2 separate regions of the Homo sapiens genome follow, and region 1 is linked to region 2. The links come from fine-mapping of genetic effects on gene expression. Tissue or cell type: monocytes. Region 2 holds a variant in brackets; the other region holds the start of a gene. All regions are shown on one strand. Distances are between the middles of the regions.

Region 1 (8,181 bases), 24 kb before region 2:
CAAGACCATCCTGGCTAACATGGTGAAACCCTGTCTCTACTAAAAATACAAAAAAAATTAGCCGGGCATGGTGGCGGGTGCCTGTAGTCCCAGCTACTTGGGAGGTTGAGGCAGGAGAATGGTGTGAACCCAAGAGGCAGAGCTTGCAGTGAGCCGAGATCGTGCCACTGCACTCCAGACTGGATAAAGAGCTCTTTGGGAAAACAAGGTTGTTGCACCCCTTCCTACACGTTACCTAGGCTTTCCCTTTTCCCCCAAATAATGCCTTATAAATGGCAGGCACATCATTGCTTTAAAATAATCAAGTTCTGTCTGGGCGAGGTGGCTCATGGCTGTAATCCCAACGCTTTGGGAGGCCAAGGCAGGTGGATCATTTGATTTGAGGCCAGGAGTTCAAGACCAGCCTGACCAACATGGTAAAACCTCATCTCTACTAAAAATACCAAAAAACTAGCCAGGTGTGGTGGCACACGCCTGAAATCTCAGCTAGTCTGGAGGCTCAGGCAGGAGAATCACTTTAACCTGGAAGATGCAGGTTGTAGTGAGTGAAGATCGCACCACTGCACTCCAGCCTGGGTGACAGAGTAAGACTCCGTCTCAAAAAATAAATATATCAGGCCGGGCACAGTGGCTCACGCCTGTAATCCCAGCACTTTGGGAAGCCGAGGCGGGTGGATCACCTGAGGTCAGGAGTTCAAGACCAGCCTGACGAACATGGAGAAACCCCGTCTCTACTAAAAATACAAAAAGTAGCTGAGCGTGGTAGCACATACTTGTAATCCCAGCTACTCGGGAGGCTGAGGCAGGAGAATTGCTTGAACCCGGGAGGTTGGAGGTTGAGCCAAGAAGGCACCACTGCACTACAGCCTGGGCAATAAGAGCAAAACTCCGTCTCAAAAAAAAAAATACATATATATATATAAAATAAATAAATAAAATAATCAAGTTCTACAACTGTTAGGAACTGAATGTTTGTAACTGAGTGTCTGTACCCCCCTAAAATTCATATATTTAAGTCCTAATCCCCAATGTGACTGTATTTGGAAATGGGGCCTGTGAGCTGATAAATGTTAAATGAGGTCACTAGGTGGGAATCAGATGTCACAGGGCTGGTGCCCTCTTAAGAGGAGGCAGAGAGAGCAAGCAGAGTCCCCCTCTCTGCCATGTGAGGACACAGCAAGAAAGTGGCCACCTGCAAGCCAAGAGAGCCCTCACCAGGAACCCAATCTGCCAACACCTTGATCTTGGACTTCCCAGCCTCCTGAACCATGAAAATAAATTTCTGGCCAGGCACAGTGGCTCACACCTGTAATCCTAGCACTTTGAGAGGCCGAGGCAGACAGATTGCTGGAGCTCAGGAGTTCGAGACCAGCCTGGGCAACACAGTGAAACCCCATCTCTACTAAAATAGAAAAAAATAAGCCAGGTGTGGTGGTACGTGCCTGTAGTCCCAGCTACTCGGGAGGCTGAGGCAGGAGAATCGCTTGAACCTGGAAGAGGGAAGTTGCAGTGAGCCGAGATCATGCCACTGCACTCCAGCCTGGGTGACAGAGCAGGACTCTATCTCAAAAATTAAAAAAATAAAATAAAATAAAAAATAAATTTCTGGCCGGGCGCGATAGCTCACGCCTGTAATCCCAGCACTTTGGGAGGCTGAGGCAGGCAGATCACGAGGTCAGGAGATTGAGACCATCCTGGCTAACATGGTGAAACCCCGTCTCTACTAAAAATACAAAATACCACTGCCAGGCGTGGTGGTGGGCGCCTGTAGTCCCAGCTACTCGGGAGGCTGAGGCAGAAGAATGGCAAGAACCCGGGAGGTGGAGCTTGCAGTGGGCCGAGATCGCGCCACTGCACTCCAGCCTGGGTGATAGAGTGAGACTCTGTCTCAAAAAATATATAAATAAATAAATAAATAAATAAATAAATAAATAAATTTCTGTTGCTTAAGCCACCCAGAATGTAGTATTTTGCTATGGTAGTATGAACAAACTAATACAATAATCTTAAAGTTTTTGCTGGCAACATTATTTATAAATTCACTAAAATCGTTCCTATTAAAAGATAAACTCAACGACATATTTTCTCTCCTTGTCTTAACATGTAATGTCCTACCATGTAATAACATGTATAACATGTTACAATAACAATGGCTAATGCTAAGTGCTAACGCTAAAGTTCCTTCTAAGCAGTCCGTGTATGATCTCATTAACTCCTCAGAGCAAATCTATGAAGTAGGTACATAGGCGCAGAAAGATGTCGTTAGCCCAGAGTAATGTGTTGACAGATTGGAAACCCACATAATTTGTCTCTAGGGCCTCTGCTCTTCACCAAACCTCCTAGTCTATCAAGTAAAGACAAAGGGAAAAATCTTCAAATACTTCCTCTTGTCTTAAAGGGATAATTTTGATATGTTATGATGATATCTAAATACTTTCAAAGTTGTAAAATAAACTTTGACTTGATACTGGAATGTAAGACTACCAAAACACCCCAAAAAACAAAACCAGGTCAGACACAGTGGTTCACACCTGTAATCCCAGCACTTTCGGAGGCCGAAGCAGGTGAATCACTTTAGTTCAGTTGTTCAAGACCAGCCTGGGCAATATGGCGAAAGCTCATCTCTACTAAAAATACAAAAATTAGCCAGGCATGGTGGCGCACGCCTGTAGTCCCAGCTACTCCGAGGCTGAGGCGGGAGAATCACTTGAACCGGGAGGCAGAGGGTGCAGTGAGCTGAGATCACACCACTGCACCCCAGTCTGGGCCACAGAGCAAGACTCTTATCTCAAAAAAACAAACAAAAAAACAAAAAAAACCAGGTGCAAGCACATTATAAGGGGTGAAATTAACCAAAAAAAAAAAAAAAATTGCTTCCAAACAGCAAATATTTCCCATCCTCGCTCCTTTTTAGAGTATAATGTCGGAGCTAATTCATTAATTTTCAGACAAACTAAACATTTTTGTTGACAGGACCAGCGCATTTCTCTCCCCATACAAAGGCTTCAGAGGAAATCAAACAACCAGATGGTCACTTGGGAGACTGGAGGCAGTGAATGTGGAGGCTGAGGGAACTTTCTCTCACCCGTTGTATGACTTTGTTCAAGTTTTTAGCTTTCCAGGTTTATTAAATAAATAAATATTCTAGGGGCTGGGACTTGAGATCTTTTTTAATATAAGCACTACAGCTATAAATTTCCCTCTGAGTACTGCCTTGGCTGCATCCTAAATACCTTTTGGTGTATTCTATTTTTGTTTCATTTGTCTCAAAACAAGGTCCCCGTTGTAAAGACTTATTTGACCCACCGGTTGCTTTAAGAGTGTGGTGTTTCATGTCCACATATCTGTGAATTTTCCACTTTTCCTTCTATTATTTTTAATTTCGTTCCATTACAGTCAGAAAAGATACTCTGTACGGCAACGAACGTGACAATATTGCATTCTGGAGAGTATATGAACACAACTAACTTATACAGTTGTAACGAAGGCTAAATGATGTGCGTGAATCATGCGCAAGAATCGGTGGGCAGAACACCGAATAAATACCAGTTCTTACATGACATTTCACTCCACGGAAAAATCTGGAGCGCACACTGCACCGCCGCCCGTGTGGCCTGCCCGCAACCCGGTGGCTCTGCCCGGCCCCGGCCCCCGGCCCCGGCCTCAGCCCCGCACCTCGTCTCCGCCCGATGGTCCACTCCCGCTTCCTCAGGAGGACGTGCGGCTCGCCCTCCTCCGCGCCCAGACGCAGGAGCCGTCCCCAGGGCTGCGGCGGCGGCGACTGCTTGCCTTCCTCGGGCCGCTCCATCGGGATTCACATCTGCGGAGACCCCGGAAACGCCCATGGAGACTCCCGACCCCAGAGGCCGAGACTCGGCGCCCGCCCCACCCCGCGGGCCCCGGCCCGGCCGCCCGCGCCCACGCAGCCCCGCAGCCCGGCCTGGACGCCGGCGGGCGCCCCCTCCCACGGCCGCAACCAGGTCCCCCTTCGCCGCCCGCCGCAGCCCCCTCGCCAGCCGCGCTTACCCCCGCCCCGCGCCGAACCCGGAACCGGCTGCGCCGCCGCCGCTGTCAAGAGACATTGCGGCTCCCTCAGCTGATCCGCGGGGCGGGGCCAGAGGCCTCTGCGCCCCGCGATTGGCTGGCGGCGGCGCTCACCAAGAGCGGCAGCTAAAGCGGAGCCGGGAGTGGCCCGCGAGAGTAGGCGCGTGGAGGGCGCTCGGCCATCTTTGATCCTGACCAGGCGACTTCGTCGCCTGCGGATCACGGAAGTGGCTGCGGTCGGCGCCATGTTATGTTGGGGCAGAAGGGACGGGGAACTTCCGGATTGGAAGCCCCAAGGATTCTGAGAGCCCCGCTAATCTGGGGATGACTCCTAGGAGTAGAAGACGGTCCATCTTAGTTGTCACGAGGTAGTGCACGTGGGGACCCTTTCGGGTACAGTTGCACACAGTGGATCACACAGATCCGAAGTCTGAGGCACAGGGCGCGGTCCGCGAGTGGGAGCGGCTGCTTGTGGGCAGGGTGGACGCGGGGCCACGTCTTGGCCGGCGTTTTGCGGGGTCTTCCTGTTCTGAACGCGCGTAACTTTTGCCTCAGTATCTCACTTCTTGGAATCCGGCGGCGTTCACGTGTGTGCTCCAGAGAAGGGCGCCAGAGGGTATTCCCTGAAAGTGAAAGGTCGGCGAAAGAGGAGTAAAGACGGCGAGACGCGTCCACGCAGGGGGAGTCTGTGCGGTTTGGAGGAACGCGCCAATGTCTGCACTCATGAGGAGCCCCCAAGGGCGGTTTTAAGAGGGTGAAGCAGGACCGGGCGCAGTGACTTACGCCTGTAATCTAAGTGCTTTGGAAGGCCTAGGCAGGAGGATCTCGAGCCCAGGAGTTCGAGATTAGCCTGAGACCTCATCGCTACCAAAATAAATAAAGTAGGCATCCATTTGTGTAAAACAAACCATATATACACACATATATACATATATAAACATTTGTATATATAGGTATAGGCATAGTTATCTATACCTTGTAAACCAAAAATAAAATTGTAAGCCTCCCCAACCAACTGAATGAACTGAGTCTCTCAACGCCAAAGTTAATCTGAAAAACCAGTTCAGTCCCTGATGGGAAGCAGGGTTTGGATATGTCCCATTATACTGTCCTCCCTTTGGAATTCAGGTATAACTGACCAGCGTCGACGTTAAAACAGACAACTTAAGGCTGACCAAACGGTCTGTAGCATTAAGATACATCACATGACAAATAGCAGGCCCTGGAAGAAAACGAAGTATTTTACCCTGACATGTATTTATTTAACATAGTTTTACGTAGCCCTGCAAAACTGTCTCCTGGGGGAAATCTACTTTGTAGAGAATCTCCTTCCTTTTCCACATCTTTTCCTGATCCAGGAGAGAATGTAAGACTCTGGCACCTTTTTAACTCTGATAAGAAAAGTTTACCATCTATTCTCTCTGAAGCCTGCTGCCTGGAGCGGCATCTGCATTAGAATGGCCAGAGTGGTGGTGCTCAAGCCTGTAATCCTAGCACTTTGGGAGGCCGAGGTGGGTGGATCGCTTGAGCCCAGGAATTCAGACCATCCTGGGCAACATGGGGAGACCCCGTCTTAGCTGGACATGATGACAGCACATGCCTATAGTCCCAGCTATTCAGGAGGCTGAGGTGGGCAGATTCCTTGAGCCCGGGAGGACAAGGCTGCGGTAAACCACAGTCTGTGCCACTGCAATCCAGCCTGGGCAACAGAGACCCTGTCAAAAAAAAAATAACAAAATAGAAACTTTGTCTCCCTTAGCTTAACCCAGACAATCCTTTCTATTGATTCCAGGTCTTTAGATAATAACAACTCTTTCAACCAAGTGCCAATCAGAAAATCTTTGAATCCATCTATGAACTTTCTCCCTAAAAGGTGTAAAACCGGCTGGGCGCAGTGGCTCACGTCTGTAATCCCAGCAGTTTGGGAGGCTGAGGCAGGTGGATCATGTCAGGCCTCTGAACCTAAGCTAAGCCATCGCATCCCCTGTGACCTGCATGTATATATATGCCTAGATGGCCTGAAGTAACTGAAGAATCACAAAAGAAGTGAAAATGGCCTGTTCCTGCCTTAGCTGATGACATTCCACTACAAAAGAAGTGAAAATGGCCGGTCCTTGCCTTAACTGATGACATTACCTTGTGAAATTCCTTCTCCTGGCTCATCCTGGCTCAAAAAGCTCCCTCATTGAGCACCTTGTGACCCCCACCCCTGCCCACCAGAGAACAACCCCCCTTTGACTGTAATTTTCGTTTACCTACTTAAATCTTATAAAACGGCCCCACTACCCCTATCTGCCCTTTGCTGACTCTCTTTTCGGACTCAGCCCGCCTACACCCAGGTGAGTAAAAAACTTTATTGCTCACACAAAGCCTGTTTGATCGTCTCTTCACATGGACGCGAGTGAAATTTGGTGCCGTGACTCGGATCGGGAGACCTCCCTTGGGAGATCAATCCCCTGTCCTACTCTTTGCTCCGTGAGAAAGATCCACCTACGACCTCAGGTCCTCAGACCAACCAGCCCAAGGAACATCTCACCAATTTTAAATCGGGTAATGGCCTCTTTTCACTCTCTTCTCCCACCTCTCTCACTATCCTTCAACCTCTTTCTCCTTTCAATCTTGGTGCCACACTTTAATCTCTCCCTACTCTTAATTTCAGTTCCTTTCCTTTTCTGGTAGAGACAAAGGAGACGCGTTTTATCCATGAACCCAAAATTCCGGCGCCGGTCATGGACTCGGGAAGACAGTCTTCCCTTGGTGTTTAATCGCGCAGGGACGCCTGCCTGATTATTCACCCACGTTTCAGAGGTGTCTGACCATGCAGGGACGCCTGCCTTGGTCCTTCACCCTTAGTGGCAAGTAATGCTTTTTTGGGGGGCAAGAACCCCCCAACCCCTTCTCTCCGTGTCTCTACCCCTTCTTCACTTTCCTGGGTGGCAAGCACCCCCCACCCCCTTCTCTCCATGTCTCTACCCTCTCTTTTCTCTGGGCTTGCCTCCTTCACTATGGGCAAACTTCCACCCTCCATTCCTCCCTCTTCTCCATTAGCCTGTGTTCTCAAAAACTTAAAACCTCTTCAACTCACACCTGACCTAAAACCTAAACGCCTTGTTTTCTTCTGCAACACCGCTTGGCCCCAATACAAACTTGACAATGGCTCTAAATAGCCAGAAAACGGCACTTTCAACTTCTCCATTCTACAAGACCTAAATAATTTTTGTCAAAAAATAGGCAAATGATCTGAGGTGCTTTACATCCAGGCATTTTTCACACTTCGTTCCCTCCCTAGTCTCTGTTCCCAATGCGATTCCTCCCAAATCCTCCTTCTCTCCCTCCTGCCTGTTCCCTCAGTCCCAACCCCAAGCGTCGCTGAGTCTTTCCAGTCTTCCTTTTCTACAGACCCATCTGACCTCTCCCCTCCTCCCCAGGCTGCTCGTCGCCAGGCCAAGCTAAGTCCCAATTCTTCCTCAGCCTCCGCTCCTCCACCCTATAATCTTTCTGTCACCTCCCCTCCTCACACCCGGTCCGGCTTACAGTTTAGTTCCTTGACTAGCTCTTCCCCACCTGCCCAACAATTTCCTCTTAGAGAGGTGGCTGGAGCTGAAGGCATAGTCAGGGTACATGTGCCTTTTTCTCTATCAGACCTCTCTCAGATCAGTCAACATTTAGGCTCTTTCTCATCAGACCCCACTAAACATATACAGGAATTCCGATATCTAACTTTGTCCTACAAGTTAACCTGGAGTGACCTAAATGTCATCCTGACTTCTACCCTCTCCCCAGATGAACGGGAAAGAGTTTTTTCTCTAGCCCAATCTCACGCTGATAACCACCGGCTTCACGAGCCATACCTCCAGGAAGGCATCAGAGCAGTTCCCCGAGAGGATCCCCAATGGAACTATCAGGCAGATTCCCCAGGTACAGCTAGGCAAGATTACATGATTTCCTGCCTAGTTGAAGGGCTTAAAAAGGCAGCTTACAAACCTGTTAATTATGACAAGCTTAAAGAAACTACCCAAGGTAAAGACGAAAACCAAGCCCAGTTCATGGCCTGCTTAGCAGCAACACTCAGACACTTTACCGCCCTAGACCCAGAAGGGCCAGAAGGCCGCCTTATTCTTAATATGCATTTTATCA
Region 2 (8,181 bases):
GAACAGTTAACAAAAAACTGAGACTGGGGGAGTGACAGACAATTCAGATTACAAAGCAAAAGCAACATAGGATTCAGATAAATACGATACCATGGTGAAACAAAATCTTTAAAGCACAAATGGTTTTGAATGTAGAAGCTCATATTTCACTAACTATTCACTGATGCGTAGTCCACTTTTCAGCAGTGATCTCCAATCAGTCCCTCCTTTCACAGAAGCCAGCGCAGGAGGCGCACGCGTCGCTTCCCGCCCCGCACTTCACCGCCCCAGCCCGTCCTGGCTGCCACCCGCCGTCCCTGAGAAACGCTCAGACGCTTCTCTCTCTCTTTTTAAAATTATACTTTAAGTTCTGGGGTACATGTGCAGAACCTGCAGGTTTGTTACATAGGTATACACGTGCCATGGTGGTTTGCTGCACCCATCAACCAGTTATCTACATTACGTATTTCTCCTGATGCTATCCCTCCCCTGGCCCCCCACCCCCGACAGGCCCCGGTGTGTGATGTTCTCCTCCCATTGTCCATGGTTTTTATTTTATTATTATTTTTTGAGACGGAGTCTCGCTCTATCGCCCATGCTGGAGTGCAGTGGCACCATCTCGGGTTCAAGCGATTCTCCTGCCTCAGCCTCCTGAGTAGCTGGGATTACAGGCATGCGCCGCCACGCCCGGCTATTTTTTTTTTTTTTTTTTTTTTTTTTTTTTTTTGTATTTTTAGTAGAGACGAGGTTTCACCATGTTGGCCAGTCTGGTCTCGAACTCCTGACCTCGTGATTCGCCCGCCTCGGCCTCCCAAAGTGTTGGGATTACAGGCGGGAGCCGCCGCGCCCGGCCTCAGACGTTTTTCTCTAGGTAAAGCCGCGGGATGAACCAGCCCCTGTGGAAATTTAGAAGTAACGACGTCCGTCAATTTCTGTATGAAAAATATACAGATCGTGTGACACGTCTTCTGGGAATGAAAGTCTGCTAAACTCGCCGTCACGAGTAGATGAACACATTTAAAGTTTGTAGTTAAGAGGAAAACAACGCCAACGACACAAATGCCCCAAGCGCTGGATGAAGCAGCGACCTAGGATGGGGCTGGCCTGGAACGGGAACCAAGACGCCCGCCCGGACGAAAACGAGCAGGGAAACCCGGGCCGGGGTCGGCCGCCCCACACGACGCACTGCGCAGAGACCACGCGGCTCCGGGTCTCGCCTGCGCCGGCGCATCCCTCGCAGACGCGCTCCTCCCACGCGAGGGCCCCTTCCCCGAAGCGCACGCCTAAGACTGCGCGCCGCAGCCCGCCCTGTCTAGCTGAGGCGCAGACCCGGATGGGTCCCAGAGGGGCGGGTCGGGGCGGAGAGCCGCGCCCAAAGGCAATGGGAGCCGCACGCTGCTAGGCAACATGCTGTCTCCCGGCAACGTAGAGGCGGGGAATTCGCCAACGTGTCTGAAACAGACAACAATTTTAGCCAACGGCTGCGTGGGCCTTGGGCGTCCTGGCCAATGGGAATAGTGAGGGGCCTGTCACTAAGAAACCTGTCCCTGAGCAACGCATAGGAGGGGTGGAACCCAGCAGCGCTGACTGAGCCGCCGCGAAGTGCCGGAACGTATTACCTGGGAGCCAAATTTCAGAGCGTCGTTTGTCTTCCCAAGCCCACCAGCTTTCAGCGTTCTCCAGCCTCGCCACACCCCCGCCTCGGGCCGTCCCCGCCCAGACGCTTGTCCCCGCGAGAAGCTGAGCGCACTGAAGTGAGCCCGGCGGCTGCCGCCGGAGGAGGAGCCCGGCTCTGGACACGGCCGTCAGGAAGCTCAGAGGCTGCAGCACCGCTTCTGCGTTGATTTCCGCTTGACTTTTACTCTTTTCTTGGGTTAAAAATCAAACGCCGACCCGAGGCGTCAGAGATGGGCGGTCGTTAGGCGCAGTGGCGGCCCCCGGATGTTTGCGATGGGACGGCGGGCTCGGAACGTGTGGACGTGGGCTTTGGAGGTGCGAGCCCCATTGGGCCAGGGCTGGGTCCGGGCAGTGGTACGGGGTCTCAGCTGTCCGTCACAGGAGATGTGCAGGCCTCGTCATCTGGGGTCTTACGTGTCAGTGATGTGGGGTCTGCCGGGTCAGTGAGGGGGTCTGTGAGGTCACTAGTGGGAGGCCACTCCCAAAGTGATTCCCCTCTGTCCCACCTGCTTCCCTGAGAAAAGCTCACTTATCCTTCACCAGGATTTAAAAATATATATCCTAAGACCAACCTGTAATATTTTTTTCTTTTTTGGAGACAGGGTCTCTTTCTGTCACCCAGGCTGGAGTGCAGTGCCACAATCTCATTGCAACCTCTGCCTCCTGGGCTCAGGCAATCCTCCCACTTCAGCCTCCCGAGTAGCTGGGACTACAAGTGTGTGTCACCACACTCAGCTAATTTTTAAATTTTTTATAGAGACGAGGTCTCACTCTATTGCCCAGACTGGTCTCAAGCGAGCCTCCTGCCTTAGCCTCCCAAAGTGCTGGGATTACAGGCATGAGCCACCGCGCCCACCCAATATTCTCTTTTTCATGGACCTTGTTTAGTTGCACTAAAAAAAAATTAATATATTTTATTTTTGTTTAGAGCGTGTTGGGTTTACAGAAAAATCAACTGGAAAGAACAAGGAGTTCCCCCCATCCCTTTCTACCTTAGTGTTCCCCTTATGTTCTACCATAGTGTTTCCCCTATATTTACGTTTCATATTACTCTGGTACATTTGTTACAACTGATACACCAATATTAATATATTATTATTAACTGAAGTTTATAGTTTACTTTTTTTTTTTTTTTGAGTCGGAGTCCCGCTCTGTTGCCCAGGCTGGAGTGCAATGGCACGATCTCGGCTCACTGAAACCTCTGCCTCCCGGGTTGAAGCAATTCTCTTGCCTCAGCCTCCCAAGTAGCTGGGATGATAGGTGCCCGCCATCACGCCCGGCTAATTTTTGTATTTTTAGTAGAGACGGGGTTTCACCATATTGGCCAGGCTGGTCTCTTGGCCCGGCTGGTCTTGAACTCCTGACCTTGTGATCCACCCGTCTCAGCCTCCCAAAGTGCTGGGATTACAGGCGTGAGCCACCACGCCTGGCCCTTTTTTTTTTTTTTCCTGACGGAGTCTTGCTCTTGTTGCCCAGGCTGGAGTGCAATGGCGCGATCTCGGCCCCATGCAACCTCCACCTCCCGCGTTCAAGTGATTCTTCTGCCTCAGCCTCCCAAGTAGCTGGGATTACAGGCATGTGCCACCAC[G/T]CCTGGCCACAAGTTTTAAATTTTAATGAAGTTCAACTTATCAGTTTTTTGTTTCACAGATTGTACTTTTGGTATGGTATCTGAGAAAATATCACTAAACCCAGGATCACCTAGATTTTCTTCTGTGCTGTCTTCCAGGAGTTGTATAGTTTTGCATTTCACATTCAGGTCTTTGATCCATTTTGAGTTAGTTTCTGTGAAAGGTATAAGGTCTTTGTCTAGATTCACATTTTTGCCTGTGGATGTCCAGTTTTTCCAGCACCATTTGCTAAAAAGACTATCCTTTCTCCATTGCATTGCCCTTGCTCCTTTGTCAAACATCAGTTGACTATATTTGTGTGGCGCTGCTTCTGGGCTCTTTATTCTGCCCCACTGACCTCTTTGTCCATTCTTCTGCCAGTATCAGAGTGTCTCCATTACTATCGCTTTATAGGAAATTTTGAAGTTGGGTAGTGTCAGCTCCCCAACATTGCTCTTCTCCTTCAATACTGTGTTGACTATTCTGGGTCTATTTCTAATCTAGCAATGGAAGTTTTGCATTTCATTAGTCTTTATTTATTTATTTATTTCAGACAGCGTCTCACCCTGTCGCCCAGGCTGGAGTGCAACGGCACAATCTCGGCTCACTGCAACCTCCACCTCCAGGGTTCAAGCAATTCCCCTGCCTCAGCTTCCCAAGTAGCTGGGATTACAGGCACACACCACCACACCTGGCTAATTTTTTGCATCTTTGGTAGAGACGGGGTTTCACCATGTTGGCCAGGCTGGTCTTGATCTCCTGACCTCGTGATCCATCTGCCTTGGCCTCCCAAAGTACTGGGATTACAGGCGTTAGCCACCGCGCCCTGCCTCACTAGTCTTTTCAAGAAAGAAGCTTTTAGATGTGGATTTATTATCTGTTAATTCTCATTTTCATCTTCATTATTTCCTTTTTGCTACTTTTATTTGGATATTTTCTAGGATTCTTCCTAATCTCTTGGGTTGGATGCTTAACACTTACATTTCCATTGATCCTGTTTTCCTAATAGAGGCATTTGGGGTAATGCATTTTCCAGTAAGTGCCACTTTAGATTATATCCCATTTTGTGTGGTGTCCTATATCAGTTAAACCCACCGTATTCATTGTATAAATCAAATTTTTCATATACTTACTGTATTAGTCCATTTTCACGCTGCTGATAAAGACATACCCAAGACTGAGTAATTTATAAAGTAAAAGAGGTTTAATGGACTCACAGTTCCATGTGGCTGGGGAGGCCTCATAATCATGGTGGGTGAAAGGCACTTCTGACATGCTGGTGGCAAGAGAGAATCAGAGCACCAAGCAAAAAGGAAACCCCTTGTCAAATCACCAGATCTCATGAGACTTATTCACTACCATGAGAACAGTATCAGGGAAACCACTCCCAAGATTCAGTTATCTCCCACTGGGTCCCTCCCACAATATGTGGGAATTGTGGGAGCTGCAATTCAAGATGAGATTTGGGTGGGGACATAGCCAAAACAAGTTATCTCCCACCAGGTCCCTCCCACATGTGGGAATTAAGGGAGCTGCAATTCAAGAAGAGATTTGGGTGGGGACACAGCCAAACCAGATCACTTACCAATTATGTGCTGTCCTGCTCTATCAATTCCTAAGAAAAGTGTGCAAAAATTTCCAAATGGTAATGTGGATTTGTAGTTTATTCCTCTAATTGTCCTATTTTGTATAATACATTCTTTGGTCTATGTTAATTTGAAATTTTGAACATAGAATCATTATATCTTCATAGAAAATTGTACTTTTATCCTTATATAATGACCCTTTTTATTCCTAACGATGGTTTCCCTAAAGCTTATGTTACCCAATTAATGTTTGCCAGGTATATATTTTTCCACTCATACTCACTTTTTATAACATTTTTATGCATTTATTTTATAAACATATACATGGAATATTTTAAAGCATAATGCGACATTCTGCTTTTAAACCGATGAGTTTATATGATTTGTGATTATTGATACAGTTGGCTGGGTGCGGTGGCTCACGCCTGTAATCCCAGCATTTTGGGAAGCCGAGGTGGGCAGATTACTAGGTCAGGAGATCGAGACCATCCTGGCTAACATGGTGAACCCCCATCTCTACTAAAAATACAAAAAATTAGCCGGGTGTGGTGGTGGGTGCCTGTAATCCCAGCTACTCAGGAGGCTGAGGCAGGAGAATGGCGTGAACCCGTGAGGCAGAGCTTGCAGTGAGCCAAGATGGCACCACTGCACTCCAGCCTGGGCGACAGAGCGAGACTCCGTCTCAAAAAAAAAAAAAAAAAAAAAAAAGATTATTGATACAGTTATGTTTATTTCTATCATTTTACTTTTTGCTTTCCATTGGCCTTGTGTTTTTTGTCCCTTATTATTTTCTATCTTCTTTTGGATTTAATCAAGCTTTCTCACTTCCATTTTCAATATCTATTCTTTAAGTGTTAATGTTAAGGTGTTTGCTATGTATACAAGACTTAACAAAGTCTAAAGGTAATCACTTAATCTGCTCTCTCCATAACCAACAGAGAGGCATCCCAATTTTTTTTTTTTTTTTGAGGCAGAGTTTTGCTCTTCTTGCCCAGGCTGGAGTGCGATGGCGCGATCTCAACTCACTGCAACCTCTTCCTCCCAGGTTCAAGCATTTCTCCTGCCTCAGCCTCCTGAGTAGCTGGGATGACAGGTGCCTGACACCACGCCCAGCTAATTTTTGTATTTTTAGTAGAGACTGGGGTTTCTCCATGTTGGTCGGGCTGGTCTCGAACTCCTGACCTCAGGTGATCCACCAGCCTCGGCCTCCCAAAGTGCTGGGATTACAGGTGTGAGCCACCACGCCTGGCTCCAATTTTTTTTTTTTTTTTTTTGAGACAGAGTTTTCACTCTTGTTGCCCAGGCTGGAATGCAGTGGCACAGTCTTGGCTCACTACAACTTCCACCTCCCAGGTTCAAGCGATTCTCCTGCCTCAGCCTCCCAAGTAGCTGGAATTACACACACCCACCACCACAGCTGGCTAATTTTTTGTATTTAGTAGAGAGAGGGTTTCACCATGTTGGTCTGGCTGGTCTGGAATTCCTGACCTCAGGTGATCTGTCTGCCTTGGCCTCCCAAAGTGCTGGGATTACAGGCGTGAGCCACTGCACCCAGCGTCCCAACATTTTTATCTCTGATCATCCTGAACACATACCATGTTACTCACTGTTTTAGTTCTGCGTTATTTTTGTTGCATAACCAGTAACATAACATTATTATTGTTAGTTTACATAGCCAATACTAGTTTAGGTTCACATGTATTACCTCTTGGCTTCACCCACTACTTTTCTCTGATGGCAATCTTTGGAAGTTCCTTCATTGAGGGTTTATTAGTGGTAAACTCTTTATCTTTGCTGTGGTGCAGTGTCTAGAATTTTTGTTAAGTGAAGGTTTTACATTTAAATCTTCATCTATTAAGTTTGAATATGGGATGAGTTATGGATTGAGGTTCATTTGTTTTGTATATTGACTTTCAATTGTTGCAGCACCATTTTTTTAAACCACTATTTTCATTGATTTGCCCTTGCAACTTTGTCAAAAATCAATTGACCATATACACGAAGGTCTATTTATGTATTCTCAATTATGGTCCATGATCTATGTGTTTATCCTTTCTCTGACACAATGTTTAGATTGCTGTATCTTTACAGTAAGTTTCGAAGTCAGGGAGTGCGAGTCTTCCAGCTCTGTTCCTCTTTGACAAAAGATGTTTTGGCTATTCTAGTTTCTTCTGCTTTTCCAAATAAATTTGATTAACTTGTTAATGTCTACAAAAACTCCTGCTGGAATTTCCATTGGGATCGCAATAAATTTATAGGTAAATCTAGAGAGAACTGACATTCTACTATTTATTGTTCCAAACCACAAATATGATACATATTTCCATTTATTTAGGATTTGGATTTCCCTTATTTCTCTCATAAGCGTTTTGACGTTTTCAACATACAGATCTTTTATAACAACACTTACCCACTTCCCACCATTCTACCCCCATTCCTAAACCTTGGCAACACAAGAATCTGTCCTCCATTAAAAATGTTATGATTTCAGAAATGTTATATAAATGGAATAATACAATATGCAACCTTATGGGACTGATTTCTTGCATTTGGTGTACTTCTCTAGAGATTAATCCAAGTTTTTGTGTGTATCAGTAGTCCATTTATTTTCCTGAATAGCATTCCATATGTGTGTGCCACAATTTGTTTAACCATTTACCTTATTCTCAGTTTTTGGCTGTTCAAATAAACTGATATTAATCTGTGTACAGGTTTTGGTGAGAAAATATATTTATCTGGGATAAATCCCCAAAAGTGCAATTGCTAGGTTATATGGTAATTTGATGTTTAATTCATAAGAAACTGCCAAACTGTTTTCTAGAATTGCTGTACCATTTTCCACTCCCACTGGTAATGTATTAGTGATACAGCTTCTATGTACCCTCAACATTTGATGGTGTCACTATTTTTTTTTTTTTTTTTTTTAGACAGAGTCTTGCTCTGTTGCCCAGGCTGGAGTGCAATGGCGTGTCTTGGCTCACTGCAACCTCCGCCTCCAGGTACAAGCAGTTCTCTGCCTCAGCCTCCCGAGTAGCTGGGATTACAGGTGCGCACCACCATGCCTGGCTAATTTTTGTATTTTTAGTAGAGATGGAGTTTCACCATCTTGGCCAGGCTGGTCTCGAACTCCTGACCGCGTGATCCACCCGCCTCAGCCTCCCAAAGTGCTGGGCTTACAAGCATGAGCCACTGCACCCAGCCGCTGTCACTATTTCTTTTCTTTTTTGAGACGGAGTCACGCTCTGTCGCCCAGGCTGGGGTGCAGGGACACAATCTCGGTTCACTGTAAGCTCCACCTCCCAGGTTCACACCAACCTCCTGCCTCAGACTAT

What was found. PIP is the estimated chance that this variant, and not a neighbour inherited with it, causes the effect.
Region 1: CHFR starts here. The variant in region 2 is fine-mapped to the expression of CHFR in monocytes (TOPMed, PIP above 0.99).

What each region holds. Positions count from the first base shown.
Region 1 is chr12:132,883,521-132,891,701 of GRCh38, forward strand. It overlaps CHFR (checkpoint with forkhead and ring finger domains), which reads right to left and starts at 4,085. Exons shown (of 18, transcript NM_001161346.2): 1 at 4,027-4,085; 2 at 3,676-3,820. The coding sequence starts at 3,808. It overlaps CHFR-DT (CHFR divergent transcript), which reads left to right and starts at 4,322. Exons shown (of 2, transcript NR_110919.1): 1 at 4,322-4,412; 2 at 4,600-5,051. RefSeq lists a silencer at 3,942-4,061 and enhancers at 4,132-4,541, 4,878-5,680, 5,681-6,481.
Region 2 is chr12:132,907,178-132,915,358 of GRCh38, forward strand. LOC124903065 (a long non-coding RNA gene) reads left to right here and starts at 1,491. Exons shown (of 2, transcript XR_007063553.1): 1 at 1,491-1,971; 2 at 3,817-7,555. RefSeq lists a silencer at 1,215-1,264. The variant G/T (reference allele first, on the strand shown) is at 3,245.